Regions from separate parts of the Homo sapiens genome. Here region 2 is reported to be linked to region 1. Evidence: microRNA targets listed by miRTarBase, many of them from high-throughput screens and not tested one by one. Region 1 holds a microRNA gene; the other region holds the end of a gene's coding sequence.

Region 1 (7,165 bases):
TGCCTAACAATAGACTGACTAGTAGCAAGTCACCCTCCTACCTAGACCTAAGACAGACCAGCATTCTCTGCTGTGCCCTTTGCACACCCCACTTCTTTTCTACACACTGGGGATGGCCCAGGTCAGGCACTGCCCTAGGTCAGGAACTGCCCTAGGTCAGGAACTGCCCTGTTGCCCACACTCTCCTGTTAAGGTCAGGTCCCCCTGCAGCCAGTGACAACCCCAGATTCCTGCTTCCCCTCCAGTACGCCCGTTTGGTGGAGATCGTGGGCATGCATGACCTTGGCGTGGGCATTACCCTGGGGGCCCATCAGAGCATCGGTTTCAAAGGCATCCTGCTCTTTGGCACAAAGGCCCAGAAAGAAAAATACCTCCCCAAGCTGGCATCTGGTGAGGCAACCCTAGGAGAGCCAGGGATTGGGGGGCACACTGGGCTTGGCACAGATTAGGCCAGTTGGCACTTAGATTATCAGATGGCTGAGCATTTCAGTTGGGGGAAGGTTTTGGGGAGGCATCACAGTGTGCTGGTTGGGACATGCAAAAGAACTGGATACTCCCAGGTGTTAAGGGGGAACTGCCTGCTGGAGGGATGGGGAAGTGGGCCGAGGGGACTTTGAAGCTCATCAGAACTTGGGGTAAAGTAGCTCTCTCCCCAACAGGGGAGACTGTGGCCGCTTTCTGTCTAACCGAGCCCTCAAGCGGGTCAGATGCAGCCTCCATCCGAACCTCTGCTGTGCCCAGCCCCTGTGGAAAATACTATACCCTCAATGGAAGCAAGCTTTGGATCAGGCAACCTGCCTCCCATTTCTCCCCTTCTCCTCCGCCCAATTCCAGGCCCCACTGCTCCCCGTCCTCCACGCCCTGAATATCCCATTCTTCCACAGTAATGGGGGCCTAGCAGACATCTTCACGGTCTTTGCCAAGACACCAGTTACAGATCCAGCCACAGGAGCCGTGAAGGAGAAGATCACAGCTTTTGTGGTGGAGAGGGGCTTCGGGGGCATTACCCAGTGAGTGAATTTGGGTTGGGGGAGCTTAGGACTGAGGGGCAGGACTGGGCTCCTGGGCAGATGGCTGTTGCAAGTCACCCTGGGGACGTGTGCAAAAGCCAAAGCAGGTGGACTGAATGTGGCCTTTGGGACTAATATGTATGCAACTGAGCTAAAGTTTTGGCTCCAGCAACCAAGTCCAACACAAAATAGGACATAGCCAGGCCTCCTTAGCCCTCAGGGCCTGAGGGGAAGTGGTGGCTGTAGCCTCTAATAGTCTAGTGGTCGTCATTCCTCCCTGGTGCATAAGGAGCGAAGGAGCAGTTTTTCCCCCAGTGACAACCTGTTGAACACACCTCTGCTTTCCCACACTGCCCTGACACAGTGGGCCCCCTGAGAAGAAGATGGGCATCAAGGCTTCAAACACAGCAGAGGTGTTCTTTGATGGAGTACGGGTGCCATCGGAGAACGTGCTGGGTGAGGTTGGGAGTGGCTTCAAGGTTGCCATGCACATCCTCAACAATGGAAGGTTTGGCATGGCTGCGGCCCTGGCAGGTACCATGAGAGGCATCATTGCTAAGGCGGTGAGTACCCTGCCCGAGTCCCTAGGTAACCCAAACAGAAGTCTCACTGTCCCCCTTGCCATGTGTCCCTGATCACTTGCAGGCACTCCCTACACTAGAAACTCCTCCCCTACCAGCAGCCCGACTTGCTAGCTTAGGTCTCCATCCAGCGTAGACTGAACTCTGGTTGTATGCAAAACCCATCCCTCTGGCGCAAGCCCAGCCCCTCTCCTAGGGAGACTGCAGAACCACACTGAACCACAGCGGGATGTGTGGACCCTCTTCCAGGTAGATCATGCCACTAATCGTACCCAGTTTGGGGAGAAAATTCACAACTTTGGGCTGATCCAGGAGAAGCTGGCACGGATGGTTATGCTGCAGTATGTAACTGAGGTGAGGGCCTCCCAAGCCCCTCTCCCTGGAGCCCTGGGGCTTTCTTCCCAGTCGGGTCAGACTACAACCCCCAGCAGCACCTGGGGCAGTGGGTCTCCAGCTTTACACCAATGCCCTAGGGGATGCGGGGAGGCATAGTCAGCTCAGCTTCTGCGAAGAGAGACAGCAATGATGTTCTGCTCAGGTGCCTGCCAGCAGTACCAGAAGTTAATTCTACCTCATCCCTTACATCCACCCCTTTTAAGAAAACAAATACCTGGAAGCACCTGATGAACTGACCCAGAACAAGTATCTGCCTGACCTGACAAGCTAGGTCAGCCCTTATCTTGGAGATCTGGGTGATGAGGCCAAGTCTGACAAAGCCCTTTGCAATTTTCCTTCCCATGTCCCAACTATGCAACCTCAGTCCATGGCTTACATGGTGAGTGCTAACATGGACCAGGGAGCCACGGACTTCCAGATAGAGGCCGCCATCAGCAAAATCTTTGGCTCGGTGAGGTCCCAGGCATGCTGGGAGGGAGTCCAGTTTGGGTGCTCAGCTCCCAAAACCAGTCTCATCTGTTCTTTGTCCCTAGGAGGCAGCCTGGAAGGTGACAGATGAATGCATCCAAATCATGGGGGGTATGGGCTTCATGAAGGTACAGGACGGTCTTCTGCAGAGCCTCGGCTGGGCCAGGGGTGGGTAGGCACATCTCAGCACGGGCATATAATTTGTGTGGCCCTGTGCTAGGAACCTGGAGTAGAGCGTGTGCTCCGAGATCTTCGCATCTTCCGGATCTTTGAGGGGACAAATGACATTCTTCGGCTGTTTGTGGCTCTGCAGGGCTGTATGGTAAGACAGAGAATTGGGTGGGGGTAGAGGTGGGGAGGACAGTGAGTCCTGACTGCTGGACCCTCTTCCCCCATAGGACAAAGGAAAGGAGCTCTCTGGGCTTGGCAGTGCTCTAAAGAATCCCTTTGGGAATGCTGGCCTCCTGCTAGGAGAGGCAGGCAAACAGCTGAGGCGGTAGGCTTAGGGCCAGAGCCAGGGGAGGGCAGGGTGGTGTATGGCAACTAACCAGTCATTCTCCCTCTTCCTCTCAGGCGGGCAGGGCTGGGCAGCGGCCTGAGTCTCAGCGGACTTGTCCACCCGGAGTTGAGTCGGAGTGGCGAGCTGGTAAGTGGCCAGGGGTCCAGGAGAGCCTGCATCAGGGACTGCAGCCGATGGCCCCTCTGAGCCCCGCACTGTCCCCATCTCTTAAGGCAGTACGGGCTCTGGAGCAGTTTGCCACTGTGGTGGAGGCCAAGCTGATAAAACACAAGAAGGGGATTGTCAGTAAGTGAGCTCTACACCATTCCGCCCCTCCCTTTCCTCTCCTTGAGACTAATGCCCCCACCCCCACCCCCACCCCACCTACCGGACAGATGAACAGTTTCTGCTGCAGCGGCTGGCAGACGGGGCCATCGACCTCTATGCCATGGTGGTGGTTCTCTCGAGGTGAGGAGGCAGGCAGGGAATGCCTGAGCCGCAGGGGGCCTGGGCCTGGATCCCAGCCGGCCCAGATTTATTTTCATCTCCTGCTTCCTGCCAGGGCCTCAAGATCCCTGAGTGAGGGCCACCCCACGGCCCAGCATGAGAAAATGCTCTGTGACACCTGGTGTATCGAGGTGAGACTCGGGGCTGCCAAGCTCAGGTGAGGGCTGGAGGTGCAGGCCCAACCCCTCCTTCCCTCTCCCCAGGCTGCAGCTCGGATCCGAGAGGGCATGGCCGCCCTGCAGTCTGACCCCTGGCAGCAAGAGCTCTACCGCAACTTCAAAAGCATCTCCAAGGCCTTGGTGGAGCGGGGTGGTGTGGTCACCAGCAACCCACTTGGCTTCTGAATACTCCCGGCCAGGGCCTGTCCCAGTTATGTGCCTTCCCTCAAGCCAAAGCCGAAGCCCCTTTCCTTAAGGCCCTGGTTTGTCCCGAAGGGGCCTAGTGTTCCCAGCACTGTGCCTGCTCTCAAGAGCACTTACTGCCTCGCAAATAATAAAAATTTCTAGCCAGTCATGCTTTGCTCCTGTGTGACGGTTCTTTCCCCCTGCTGCCTGCCTCCCTCCCAAAGAAAGGAGCCAGAGGCGTGGGGAGTTTGCCTCTATTGCTTTATTTGGTGTTTTATACAAGTGACTAAAATAAATAGAGTAACAAAGGCAGCTACATGGCCCAAATCTCCCAGCTTCCTCAGGCTGCTGTCTAGGATGCCTAACCCCGGGGTACCGCTGACCACCCCCAACCCTGCAAAGGGCAGGGCTGTGGGTAACTGGAGGAGGAGGTCACATTCTGGGGTTAGAAGGGGCCCAATGGATGGGAATTCTTCATATAAAAGAGGAAATGCCTATTAAAAAAGTCCCAAAAATGTAAGAAACTCTATTTTAACCCCCAAAAAGGCTTATAAAAAAACAAAGCTAAAAATAATCAAAGGTCCCTTGTCTACCCCTGAGGGAAGGGGGAGGAACCAGGCACTGCTGGTGAGAGTCACAGTGGCCACAATCTCCTGTATGGCAGCAGCTGGTAGGCTGAGCCCAGGCACTGTAAGAGCAAGCACATGACGGCCAGGACACCCAGTCACACACCAGGAGCGCCCGGCCCAGCCTGGCCCCACAGTGGGCTACATAACATCCACAAAGAACTCGCTGGGATTGCCCATGGCCATGTGGAAGCTTTGGCGGCTGGCTGTCAGTTCTGGGGGCACAGAGCCCAGGTCTCTGACTGGAGGGGCCCCCGGAGGCTGCACTGCTGGAGGGACTGGAGGTGGAGGTGGGGGCATCATGACCACCATCATGGGGTTGTAGGGGAGGGCCATGCCAGGGGGCGGTCCATAGGGATGGAGCCCTGGGTGGGCTCGGAGATTAGGGGCACCCCCAGTTGAGCCTCTGGATGGAGGAGGGCCCCCATCGCTAGTCCCACTTGCTTCCCCACCCCGCCGAAGGCTGCCCCCTCGGCTGGAGGGCTCAGACTCACTGCCACTGCCGGACTTGGACTCGGGGGCCCGCTCCTCGGGCCTCCCCGTGCGCCCTGCCCCCCCATCACTCCGTGTCGACCCACTGCTCCGGCTGCCTGTGGAGGGAGGGGAGGGGCAACTGAGTCCTCACCCAGGCTCCTCCCTGGCTCCCCTCTCATCCACCCTCAGATCCTGGCCGTACAGGTATGTGGGGATGACTTACCCTCACTATGCTGGCTGCTGGCACTGCCCCCACCATAGGTGTAAGATGAAAGCTCATGGTAGGGTGGAGGCTGCGGGCTGTAGGGGTGTGGGGCAGGGTATTGGTAGGAGAAAGTGGGCAGCAGGGGCCAGGGGGTGGCCCCAGGCAGAGGAGCCAGGGTATCCTGGTCTGAAGCCCCACTGGAGCCATCGTTGTCATTGAGAGACAGGTTGACTAGGTCTGGAAAGCAAGGGAAGAGAGGAAGAAATCACTGCTTCAAGAGGCTAGGGCCCCAAGACACCGAATGGAGAGGAACTGGGAACAGTTCTCCCAGACCCACCCACGATGGGGCTCAAAACAGGGGTTCACAAGGGTCTCTGACAAGAAACTCCCATCTACTTCTGCCATGAGGGCAGGGGCACAGCCACTAGCCCACGTCTTTGCGGGACTCAGGTAAGAGGTGCACCTTCCCCCGGTGGACACAGTCCTGCACCTGGCACATGGCTTGTCCAGCAGCACATGGGTGGACGTCAGCCCCCATCCTCGGCCAGTGCAGGACCTAGTGCGGGACACACACTGCTCGACCATCCATGGTGGCCCTGGCTGCGGTTTCTGGGCTAGGTCTAGGGTTGGAGAGGCAGAACAAGGTAGGCAAAGCCACACTCCCAGAGTTGGGGCAGGGGGACTTACAGCTCTCACAGCCACCACTGAGGTCTCCGAAGACGTAATAGCACTGCTCAGAGAAGGTGATCTTGTTGACGGTGTGTCGGATCAGGCCTGCTTTGAGCAGCCCGCTGGCATACTTGCGGGCCTCCCGCCGCTCAGGAAAGCCCTCCACGTGATGGTAGAGCCAGTCAACCACATCCGAGCCTGGGAGCACCCACAGTGGAAAAAGGCCTCAGGTTCTTCTTCCAACTCCTGCTCTCGCCTCTGCCTGTGCCATTCCTGGCTTTGGTCACCACCTCCTCCCCTTCTCCAGCCACCTGCCCAGGACCCAGCCATACCCAGAAAGGCATTAGGGATGGTGATCTTGAGCCACATGCGGTCCCGGACTTCCAGTCCAGACTCTGGAGCTGCCATGGCCTTGGTCACCGATGCCATGTCCGTATGGACGGAGAGACCCCGGCCTTCACAGCCTGGCAGAGGAGACAACGGGTAACCAGAGTCAGGGATCGCTCCCACAAGGGCAATGGATCAGACCACTGCGGGACAGCCTTCTGCTGGGAGGGTGGGATGAGGTGGGCTGGCGGCTCACCATCAGGCAAAGACGATCCAGATGTAATGGTGCTCATGGAGGAGGAACCTGGATAGGCTGGGAAGGTGCCAGTCAGAGCCGCGGAATGGGACACCCAGGCAGCAGGGTCAATTGGCTGGATGGGCTCATCTGGGACAAAGATGGCACCAAAATGACCCATTCTCAGTCCCCAAAAGCCAGCCCAGTCCCTCCCTGACTCAGCCTCCTGTTCCACCTCTGCCTGGACCCTCCTCCCACCCATTCCCCATGACCACAGGCCCGGCCCCAGCCTCCTGGGCAGCCCCCACCCCCAACTTCAGGCCCCTCCCTGAGTGTCACTCACTTCGGGGGAGAGTGAAATAGGCCTGAGGAGAGGGATCCCAGCACTTGGCCACAGTCAGCACAATGGGGCTATGGGGAAGAGAAGTCCAGTCAAGGGCGCAGGGGAAGAGGAGGCCTCAGGAGGGCGGGGGTCTGAAGCAAGGATGGATTAAGAGACACAAAGAGGGGGAGAAGCAAGCACATCGCGGCTGGGCTAGAGAAGGTGAGGGTGGAAGGCACCACAATGTGGATGACTCATCAACATGGAAAACTCTTAAAAACATACTGCCAAGTGAGACAAGAGAGTACACGCTGTACAGTTCCATTCACAGAAAGTCCAAAAACAGGTAAAACGAAACTGCAGTGTTCAAGGATACGTGCAAGGGTGGTAACTATCCAGTGAGGCAAAGCTTTTCTTTGTTATGGTGATGGCCAAAGAAGTCAGGAGAGTGACTACCCCTGGGGCAGTGAGGCATTTGGGAGCAGGAAGGGACATCTGAGGA
Region 2 (11,398 bases), not on the chromosome of region 1:
TTGTTACTCATCCAAGCCCGTGGTTAGCTTTTCCCAAATTATCATGTGGTAGTAAGTAAAATGTAAAGAAATATACCCTCCCTTAACCCCACACCACCTGTTAGCACCTAGCCACCTTCCTTTACTTCTCAGCCGTACTTTTTGTATTTTTTTGTTGTAGTGGTAAAATATAAATAACATAAAATTTACCATTTTAACATTTGTAAGTGTACAATTCATTGGCATTGAATACATTGTGTGCAACCACCATCACCATCAGGACTTTTTCATCAACCCAAACAGAAACTACTCATTAAACAATAACTCCGCATCCTTCCACCCCAAAGCCCTGGTAACCACTATTCTACTTTCTGTCTCTGTGAATCTGTCTATTCTAGATACCTCATAGAAGTGGAATCGTACATTATTTGTCCTTTTGTGTCTGGCTTATTTTACTCAGCATATTTTCAAGATTCATTTGTGTTGTGGGATGTAGCAGAATGTCATTCCTTTCTAAGGCTGAGTAGCATTGTATGTATTATCCATTTATCTGTTACGGACATTTGACTATTGTGAATAATGCTGTTGTGAACATTGGTGGACAAGGAACTGAAAGTCCCTGCTTTTCATTCTTTTTGGCATAAACCTACAAGAGGAATTGCTGGGTCTTAACGGTAATTCTGTGTTTAATTTTTGGACGAACTGCCAGACTGTTTCCACAGCAGTTGTACTATTTTACATCCCCACCAGCGTTACACAAGGATTCCAATTTCTCTACATCCTTGCCAACATTTGCTATTTTCTATTTTTTTTTAATAATATCCATCCTAATGGGTGTCTTTTTTTTTTTTTAAAGGAATGGTTTAAACAGGTTACCTTCTTACTCCTCATTCATGCTTTAGTTGACTACATAAGGACCCCTCTCCCTATTGGCACCATTGAAATTGTTCAGGCAAAAATAACTGCCAGCGACACACTGCTTTAAGTAATGGACTTTTCCCAAGTTTTGTATTAATATTTCAGTATTTGGTAGTGCATCCTACTGCTAGTTTTTAAACTCTTCCCTTGTCATCTATCATCTCATTCTCTCTTGACAAATGTGAAAATGGAAGCTCAGAAATAAAACAAGAATTAAAACGAATAGTGATCCTTCAGGTAACAAGCTTCATTTATCATGAAAACATATATGTATGAAACATTCTGTTTTCTGATGTTATTGGATAAATTAGGTGATAACCAAATTCTAAGTTCCAAAAATTAAATATACTCTATCTAAGGACTTTAACATGGCAGACAATGGTGACAAGGTCAAGAACATGTTTTAGAGTCTTCTCCTTTGGTCGGTATTCAATGATACAACAGTTGAAAAGGCCAGAAGAAAGTTAACCTAGGATGGTGGTTTTTGAATATCTAACTTTCACTTCTTTCCCATCTTCCAGGAAGTTGGCTGGAATGTGATGACTTAAAAGGCCCATGTTCTGAAAGGCACAAGAAATTTGAAGTTCCTGCTTCAGAGATACATATTGTTATTTGGGAAAGAAAAATATCCCAAGTGACAGATAAAGAAGCTGCCTGCCTTCCACTTAAAAAGACTAATGACCAACACGCTCTCAGTAATGAGAAACCAGTATCTTTAACATCGTGTTCTGTGGGTGATGCTGCCTCAGCTGAAACAGCCTCAGTAACTCACCCTAAAGATATATCAGTTGCCCCTCGTACTCTTTCACAGGACACAGCTGTAACTCATGGAGATCATTTACTTTCAGGTCCAAAAGGTTTGGTTGACAATATTTTACCTCTGACACTTGAAGAAACTATCCAGAAAACAGCCTCAGTTTCACAGTTAAATTCTGAAGCTTTCCTGTTAGAAAATAAACCTGTAGCAGAAAATACAGGAATTCTCAAAACCAATACTTTGCTATCACAAGAATCACTAATGGCTTCTTCAGTATCAGCTCCATGTAATGAAAAGCTTATTCAAGACCAATTTGTGGACATAAGTTTTCCATCCCAAGTTGTAAATACAAACATGCAGTCAGTACAGCTGAATACAGAAGATACTGTAAATACTAAATCTGTGAATAATACTGATGCTACTGGTCTTATACAGGGAGTGAAGTCAGTAGAAATTGAGAAGGACGCTCAGTTAAAACAATTCCTTACACCAAAAACTGAACAATTAAAACCAGAACGTGTCACATCTCAGGTATCTAATTTGAAGAAAAAAGAAACTACAGCAGATTCTCAAACCACAACATCTAAGTCATTACAGAATCAGTCTCTGAAAGAAAATCAGAAGAAGCCATTTGTGGGAAGTTGGGTTAAAGGCTTAATAAGCAGGGGTGCTTCTTTTATGCCACTCTGTGTTTCAGCTCATAATAGAAACACTATAACTGATTTACAACCTTCAGTTAAAGGGGTAAATAATTTTGGTGGCTTTAAAACTAAAGGTATAAACCAGAAGGCCAGCCACGTATCCAAGAAAGCTCGTAAGAGTGCAAGTAAGCCTCCTCCCATCAGTAAGCCACCAGCAGGCCCTCCATCGTCTAATGGCACAGCTGCCCACCCACATGCTCATGCTGCTTCAGAAGTTTTGGAAAAGTCTGGAAGCACCTCATGTGGAGCTCAACTCAACCACAGTTCTTATGGGAATGGTATTTCTTCAGCAAACCATGAAGACTTGGTGGAAGGTCAGATTCATAAACTTCGTCTAAAACTTCGTAAAAAGCTAAAGGCAGAAAAGAAGAAATTAGCTGCTCTTATGTCTTCCCCGCAAAGCAGAACAGTTCGAAGTGAAAATCTAGAACAGGTGCCCCAGGATGGGTCTCCAAATGATTGTGAATCAATAGAGGACTTGTTAAATGAGCTACCATATCCAATTGATATTGCCAGTGAGTCTGCATGCACCACTGTTCCTGGTGTTTCCCTGTACAGTAGTCAAACTCATGAAGAAATTTTAGCGGAATTATTGTCTCCTACACCTGTTTCAACAGAGCTGTCAGAAAATGGGGAAGGTGACTTTAGGTATTTGGGAATGGGAGATAGTCATATCCCACCACCAGTACCAAGTGAATTCAATGATGTTTCCCAGAACACACATCTGAGACAGGACCATAATTATTGTAGCCCCACCAAGAAAAATCCATGTGAAGTTCAGCCAGACTCTCTGACAAATAATGCCTGCGTTAGAACATTAAACTTGGAGAGTCCGATGAAGACTGATATTTTCGATGAGTTTTTTTCCTCCTCAGCATTAAATGCTTTAGCAAATGACACATTAGACCTACCTCATTTCGATGAATATCTGTTTGAGAATTATTGAATTAATGCTTGTTAACTTTTTTCATATAATATTTATTATTATTAGAAGAACTTACAATGTGTTCAGGTAGTGTTTATACACTGGACTTGTGTAATTACTTGTGTAATAACCATGAACAAAATGCAAGGTTTAACCTTTGGTTCTGCCCATGAAGCATGTAATCTTTCTTACACATTAAAATCACTGAATGTGTTCTCCTTTTTGGTTTCATTTTGTTCTTGTGAGAGTATGAGGATTTCAAAATGTTAAAGATGAAAAGTGGCGTCTAGTTTCTGACAGTTTGTACAGTTGGATGCATTACATTTTTAGATTTGAAGTTTTGGTTATGTTAGTGTTATGAGTGATCTTTGTGGTGGTTTTCTTCCCCTGGAAACCTGTTGCTCGTGGCGCTTTGCCCACGGTGCCCGAGTTCTTGTCCTGTGTCCAGATATGCAGACAAATGAAGGGTGAAGAAGAAGAAGAGGAGCTTTATTTAGTGTTAGAACAGCTCAGAAGGAGACCCACAGTGAGCAGCTCCCCTGTGTCGGCGGGCAGGTCGTCCCTCAAGTGTTCAGCTCTCAGCAGAGAAAAGGCCCTGGAGAGGGTGACTCCTCTCAGCTCTCAGCAGAGAAGCAGCCCTGGAGAAGGTAGCTTCTGTTCGCAGGCAGATTGTCCAGAGGTCCTGCTGCTCTCAGACGGGGCCCTGGAGAGGATAGCTTCTATCCATAGGCAGGTTGTTCTGCCGTCTCTACAGGTCTCTGAAGCTCTTAGCAGAGAGGGTAGCTCCTCCCTGTTGCTGGTCGTCCCACCCTCTGCTCAGTTCTGGCTGAGCCTGGGGCATTTTACGGGCCTCGGGGGAGGAAGTGCATACTTACTGGCCTGGAAAAGGCACCAGTTCCCACTCCTACAGGTGGGACTGGCAGCCTGGCCCTCAGCCTTCAGGCCCTCCCTGTTCATGGCTTCCAGGCTTACCCCCCTGCTTTGATCTGAGAGCTGGTGCCAATAGCAGGGAGAAGCCAAGCTGCAGAGGCAAGCACTTCCGAGCCTGCAAAAGCAGGCCCCCAAAAGTGCAGGGATGCCTGAGTCTGCACCCGCACCCAGGAGGGTGGAGATCTTGCCTGCTCCAAGGCTGCAGCCGGAATGATAGCAGGCTGACTGGAGCACCTGCCACCATCATTAGTTCAAGAGTTTATGCAGATTTAAGTTGTATACGGTATATGAATGTGTGACAGTTTTCCTTATGGTTGTGTGGCCTTCTGTAAGAGCCTACGCCTGTTTGTTACACCGGTAGAGTGCTGTGGAATGTAAACTTTCCCTATGTCACTTATCTCCTTTATCTCTCCATACAGAGGAGGGCAAGAAACCTTGTTACTTGAACTTTAGTAATGTTAAGTGATCAATAAATCTATAAATAAATGATAGCAGAAAAAAGTTACCTGTTTTTGTGATGATGTACAAACTTTACATGTTATCACAAATACCATCTTTCTTCCCAAGACATTTACTTCTGTAACCAAAGTGGGACACCATCTAACAGTTCTGTTTTGGGAGAGAGTAATAACCAGTGCTTGTGAGGCTTGTTAGATGTTGGTTGTGATATATGAGATAGATGTTATTTCATTTAGACCTCAACATTCCTGTGCGTGAGATACTTTTATCACATCTTACAGATAAGGAGACTGTACTCATTCAGTTGTGGAGCTGAGATTGAGTAGAGTGGCTATTACAGCAGTTGAGTGCTGAGCTTATCAATATATGTTCCACTCCTCAGGCTTCATTTAAAGTAGGATGCCCAAACAGCACCACTGCCGTAGAGATTTGAGTTAACAGCAGTACTTACTGAGGTTTAAGGCTGGCAGCCAGTGTCCTTGCAGTAAAATTATTTGCTAGGGACTCAGTACTTCATAATCTATTTGTCAGATTTACTCCTAAGCTTCTGTGTTGTTTTATTTTTTTTCTGACAAAAGTAGTGCATATTGTCAAGGAAAAACTAGGAAAATACCAAAAAAAAAGATTTTTGACCATGCATTTTAATACTTAGTGACTACAAACATTTTCCTATTTTATGCATATAGATTTTAAATAAACGTGAGATCCTATTGTATCTGTTTTAATGGATAAACATTGTTTCACTGTTTTAAGATTCTGAGGTGATTTATACTGTCTTGCCATTGTTAATTGCAGCAGTTAGCCTTGTTGATAAATTTTTGCATGGATCCAAGTTTTGTTTTCCAGGAGTGGAGTTGCTTGGTCAAAGGAAATGCACATTTAAGGTTTTTTGGTGATTGCATGACTGACTTCCCTGGGCCCTCGCCAACACTAGGTAGTAGTATTGGGAGGAAGGGGGGAACCAATCCTGGGTGCTCCAAGATTACTAGTGAGCCTGAACATTTTCTATAACTATTGTCCACTTGAGTTGTTGTTTTGTTTTTTTTTTGGTGGAGGCGGGGGTGGGTTTAAGAATTGCTTATCCTTTGCTTGTACTAATTATCTTTTCAACAAATATTTCTAGATTACTGCTAAGGACCAAGCACTGTTATCAGCCTGAGATAAGGCAGCACACTAGAAGGAAATCCTTGCTCCTTTTGAGTTTGCCTTCCAAACATGGAGATCAATATATAATGTTAGGTAGTAATAGGAGATACATGCAGTTGATTCATGTCATTTGTAGTAGTTATGGTCAATAAAGTTGCCTTGAACACTGAATTAGTATAAACTGAAATACTGTTCCTAGGGGAAATAGGTTCCTGCTAGCCTGTGGTCATGAGATTTTTGTCAAACAATCACTATATAACCTTTTCTGTTTCTGTTTAAAGACATGTTATTTGATCTATATGGTTGATTCTTTACATTAACATGGCCAACAGCACTGTAACTCAGCCTGAACGAAGCTTATCTGACACATGGTGTTCTCCATAAGGCACATCATAGCTTTCTGTGCTTAGGAACACTAGACGGCACTTCAGCACTGCACTTGAGGACGTTTTAAACAGTGAAATCAACAAAAAGCACAAAAAAATGCAACAATAGGCTGGGCAAGGTGGCTCACGCCTGTAATCCCATCACTTAGGGAGGCCGAGGCGGGCGGATCACGAGGTCAGGAGATCAAGACCATCCTGGCTAACACGGTGAAACCCCGTCTCTACTAAAAATACAAAGAATTAGCCGGGCGAGGTGGCAGGCGCCTGTAGTCCCAGCTACTCGGGAGGCTGAGGCAAGAGAATGGTGTGAACCTGGGAGGCGGAGCTTGAAGTGAGCCGAGATTGCGCCACTGCACTCCAGCCTGGGCGACAGAGCGAGACTGCGTCTCAAAAAAAAAAAAAAAGGAACAATAACAAAGACACTAGTCCCCCAAAAATACACTTGTTTACAGTGTGAACTGAAAGAGGAAGGTGGAGTATTGACTTGTTTGACCTCAGCTGGAAATGTGCACGTCCTGTGACTCAAATTTTTCTCTGTTCTGTGCATGCATGTCCACGAATAACCACAAGAAGCACTGAAAGCATTGATTTTTAGGGTTACAAATTAATTTTAGCAAGTAAATGAATTCACAAATACGGAATCTGTGAGTAATGAGGACTGATTCTTTTTTTTTTTGGAGATGGAGTTTCACTCTTGTAGCCTAGGCTGGAGTGCAATGGCATGATCTCGGCTCACTGCAACCTCCGCCTCCCGGGTTCAGCCTCCACCTCCCGGGTTCAAGCGATTCTCCTGCCTCAGCCTCCCGAATAGCTGGGATTACAGGCTTGCACCACCATGCCCGGCTAATTTTTGTATTTTTAGTACAGACGGGGTTTCACCATGTTGGCCAGGCTAGCCTCGAACTCCTGACCTCAGGCAATCCACCCACCTCAGCCTCTCAAAGTGCTGGGATTACAGGCGTGAGCCACCGCGCCCGGCCGAGGACTGATTCTTATGTCAGATGGCACTAAATGCTATGGAGAAGAGGAGTGGATGAGAGGGAGAAGTATTTTAGACCAGGTAGACTTGGAAGGTTTCTTGGAGGTGGGTGATGTTTGAGAAGAGGCTTCAATAAAGTTAGGGAGCTCGCCATGTGATTGCAGGAAGAGCGTTCCAGGAGAACAAAAGTCATGAAGAGTGAGTGCTAGGCATGTGTCTGGTCTGTTTGGGCTGCTATAACAAAATACCTTAGACTGGGTAAAATGTATAAATAATAGAAGTGTATTGCTTATAGTTCTAGAAGCTGGGAAGTCCAAGATCAAGGTATCAGCACATTCTGGTGAAAGCTGCTCTGCTTCATGGCTGGTTCTCTCACTGTCCTCACATGGCATAAGAGGGGCACAGAGCCCTCAACCGTCTCTCCAGTGGCCCCATCTCTTAGTACTGTTGGATTGGGGATTTAGACTTCACTAATTTTGGGGGGACACAAACATTGAGACCACAGCAGCATGACTGAGGATAAGCAAGAGGCCAGTGTGGTTGAGCAGAGTGATCAGTGAAGGAGAGTTAGGACATGAGTAAAGAGGCTAGCAGACACCAGATCTCATATGGCTTTGTAGGCCATAGTGAGGACTTTGTTTAAGCTGAGAATAATAGATAACCTCAGGAAAGTTTCAGGCAAGAGGGTAACATGATCTGATCTGGGTTTTAAAAGGATCACTGAAGTGGGGAGACTGTCTACAGATGGTCTGAATAGGAGTCCTAGTCTATTACAATCTCCTTGGAGTTTAGGGTGGTAACTGGAGGTGTTCAAGAGTAGTTGGATTACTGTTGGATTTCAAAAGTAGAGCCAACACGATATGTGCATTGGCTGTGAGGTAGAAGAGGAGTCAAAATGAACTCCAGGTTTTATTGACTGAGCAATTGTGCCATTTCCTGAGATGGGTCAGATTTGGGAAGGAAAGAATTTAAAGGGGATAAGATAATCCCATTAGGAGTGTGTTAAGTGTGAGATTCCTATTAGACTTTCGAGTGGAGATGATTTAATAGGAAGATAGATCTGCAACACTGGAGCTCAGCGGAGAGGGACACCCTGGAGATAGCCGTTTGGGAATTAGGAATGTGTGGATCATGTTATAGGATGGGGTCATTTAGGGACTTAAAACAGCTCTGAAGAACAAAAATGGTGCCTTGATCTTGGACTTCCTGGTTTATAGAACTGTGAGCAATATATATATATTTTTTTCAAGACAGAGTCTTGCTCCGTCATCCAGGCTGGAGTGCAGTCGCACCATCTCGGCTCACTGCAACCTCCACTTCCTGGTTCAAGCAATTCTGGTGCCTAAGCCTCCCAAGTGGTTGGGACTATAGGTGTATGACACCATGCCCGACTAATTTTTGTATTTTTTTGTAGAGACAGGGTTTTGCCATGTTGGCCAGGCTGGTCTCAAACTCCTGACCTCAAGTGATCTGCCTGCCTTGGCCTCCCAAAGTGCTTGGATTATAGGCGTGAGCCACCATGCCCAGACTAAATTTCTAACATTTATAAATTATCCAGTCTAAGATATTTTGTGATAGCAGCCCAAGCAGACCAAGGCAAAGGCCAAGCACACTTGCTCCTCCTGACTTTTGCTCTTCCTGGAATGTTCTTCCTTTAGTCACATGGTTGCCTGCCTAGCTTCATTCAATAGGAGTGTGGTGCCCTGAAAATACAAGGAAGAATGCTTTTCTTTTTTTTAAAAGGAAGGGATGATTATCTGTCAGATGCTGCTGAAAAAGAGTAATAGAGTAATTGGCCACTGGCTCTGGCAATAGGGAAGTTAGCTCTGCTAACTCCACATGAACAGTTTCACATGAACAAGTGTGAGTGGGCTCAAGAGAAGGGATGGTGAGAAAGTGGAGCTATGGACTCACTCTTGAAACATTTTCTGGTGCCTCGTAGGGCAATGTGAGGTCAAGGTTTTTGTTACTGTTCTGAAGATGGGAGAGGCTGACACATGGATGTTGTAGGTGAGAGAAGGGGCGCTTGCGGGGGCAAACTTCTCCAGGGATGGGATTCCAGTGTCTAAGAGGAGGCGGTGTGACCCTAAGAGCTAGAAAAATTATTTTATTAATAGGAAAGACAAAGTACTTAGGCTCAGATGCTAAGAGATTTGCTGATAAAAGAATGAGAACGGTCTCTTCTGATTATTTTCTTGGGGAAATAAATAGATCATCAGCTGAGGGTGTGAGGGGAGAAGGAGTTGAACATGGAGGAAGACAGGTGTGAAATATTGGTCTCAGAATGGAGAGCGAATTGAATAGGGACATGCAGTGGGCTTGCTAAGCTGTGCGGAGAGCCCGTGGGAAGTTTATGGTCATCAATTTAATGGCGACCAGCCAAGATGGTGGTTTATTTTTCTCCAGTTGTATTTAACTGCTCAGGTGCAGGACAGAGAGACTAAGTGTGAAGTTAATTTCAGCCAACGTAGAGGAATTGTCAGGCAGATGGGACAAGGAGATAGAGGAGAAAAGGAATAAGGCTTCCTGCAAGGGTAATGATTGTAGGGATGGATAAGTAAGGAACACAGGAAGTGGCTGTCTGCTGAGTGGTGGCAGAGCTCAGTGGGTCAGAGCAAGGTTCAAAGAATGGCAGAGAGGCACTTGTGGAGGAAGTAAGCTGGCTAGAAAGTAGTGTGCTTGAAATTAAGCTTCTGGAGATAGCAAGGTTACAGGTGATGACAAAGTCTGAGTATGACAAGGAAACTGCAGGGCCAGAGTTGGCAAGAATTCATGAAAAATGAGGAGAAAGAGGCACCAAGAGGCTGGGATAGCACATGGATTGTCTCTGTGTGAGGCAAAGTCATCTAAATGGCAGCAGTGGCCCTAGCAGAAAGAAATATACAGTGAGCCGGAGCAAAAATCCTCAAGGACAGGCAGAACGCCATGAAAACGGCAGATGACAGCCAAAGGAGCAGGGGCAGGGGCTCAGTCCAAAGTGTTTCAGAGTCACTGGAGGGTTGAGTGGGAAGGGGAGGGAGTGGCTGAAATGGCAACAAGGAAGAACCTCTCTCATCTCCAGGCCCAAAAGTATGTGGAATGCGGGAGATAAGACAGCCACCACTGGCCAGGGCTGTAAAGGGACATTCAGCGAATATTCAGGTTCCATTTAGCACGACAGCAGGGAAGGGACTGTTGGCAGAAAAAAACTGGGGCAGTGGGATTAAAGACAGACCACACATTCCAAAAGGCACCGTGGGAGGGTCAGGGGGCGAGGTTAGGTCTAGGCTTCAGTGTCCTGGGAGACTCAGTCTTCACAGGGTGACAGCGATCAAGAGTGCAGCTTAGGCTGGGTGCAGTGGCTCATGCCTGTAGTCCCAGCACTTTGGGAGGCCGAGACGGGAGGATTGCTTGAAGCCAGGAGTTTGAGACCAGTCTGACCAACATGGCAAAACCCCATCTCTACTAAAAATACAAAAATCAACTGGGCATGGTGGCGTGTGCCTGTAGTCCCAGCTACTTGAGAGGCTGAGGCAAGAGAATCACTTGAACCTGGGAAGCAGAGGTTGCAGTGAGCTGAGATCGTGCCACTGCACTCCAACCTGGGCAACAGAGTGAGACCCTGTCTCAAAAACAACAACAACAAAAAAGAAAAGAGTACAACTTATGAAGGGGTCTCCTGGGGAGAGGGTTTTTGGGATTCTCCTGCCTCTCAAAGTGCTGGGATTATGGGCGTGAGCCACCACACCCAGCCGAGGGAGGCTGAGTTCTAATTGTTGTATCTCTCTTGGGATTGGCCTCCTGGGCAGTTTAAAAGACAAGGCAAGGAATCTTTTGGAGAAAGAGACTGGGGGCAAGGTGTGTCTGAACAAGAAGTGTGAGAAGCTCTGTGGGCTCCCTTCAGACTTCCAGTCGTTGAATTGGGATCTCATTTATATCAGCTCTAGGTGTAACGATATTAAATCTTCTCTGTCATTTGGCAATTTTGGTTTATGCTTGATCATCATTTTTAATGTTTCGACATGTAGAAGTTTAACATTATTTTACATTCTTTTCCTTCTGGCATCATGTTTTAGCAAGATTGTTTCCACCAAAAGAATATATATATCTTCTAATGAAACTACGTTTCTTTTTTTTTTTTCCTTTGCTTTCTCTTTTGGTATATGAATCTTTGATTATTTGTAATGTATTTTGATGTGTAACACTGAAGTTTCTATTTTGTACTATTTTTTTCCCCAA

The links. The annotated mature microRNA hsa-miR-324-5p reads CGCAUCCCCUAGGGCAUUGGUG and lies in region 1 at 2,051-2,072, opposite strand. An mRNA with a match to its seed (bases 2 to 7 or 8) in the 3' UTR can be bound and repressed. Matches are read on the target gene's strand: a 7mer-m8 pairs with bases 2 to 8, a 7mer-A1 pairs with bases 2 to 7 and ends in A, and an 8mer does both.
Region 2: the mRNA of USPL1 is a reported target of hsa-miR-324-5p. Seed matches in the 3' UTR shown: 7mer-A1 at 3,592-3,598 and 7mer-m8 at 4,353-4,359.

Annotation. Positions count from the first base shown.
Region 1 is chr17:7,221,293-7,228,457 of GRCh38, forward strand. It overlaps MIR324 (microRNA 324), which reads right to left and starts at 2,087; the gene lies at 2,005-2,087. ACADVL (acyl-CoA dehydrogenase very long chain) reads left to right here. Exons shown (of 20, transcript NM_000018.4): 7 at 246-390; 8 at 660-789; 9 at 885-1,010; 10 at 1,375-1,573; 11 at 1,841-1,945; 12 at 2,352-2,438; 13 at 2,521-2,583; 14 at 2,676-2,777; 15 at 2,854-2,951; 16 at 3,029-3,101; 17 at 3,188-3,260; 18 at 3,350-3,422; 19 at 3,517-3,592; 20 at 3,665-3,974. The coding sequence ends at 3,805. DVL2 (dishevelled segment polarity protein 2) reads right to left here. Exons shown (of 15, transcript NM_004422.3): 10 at 6,685-6,752; 11 at 6,363-6,491; 12 at 6,112-6,243; 13 at 5,798-5,977; 14 at 5,129-5,347; 15 at 4,050-5,021. The coding sequence ends at 4,573. RefSeq lists an enhancer at 3,664-4,163.
Region 2 is chr13:30,656,056-30,667,453 of GRCh38, forward strand. It overlaps USPL1 (ubiquitin specific peptidase like 1), which reads left to right. Exons shown (of 9, transcript NM_005800.5): 9 at 1,419-4,711. The coding sequence ends at 3,301. Among named protein-coding and RNA genes, the nearest start is that of TRN-GTT2-4, 12 kb to the right of the region's middle. RefSeq lists enhancers at 3,247-4,006, 3,747-3,866.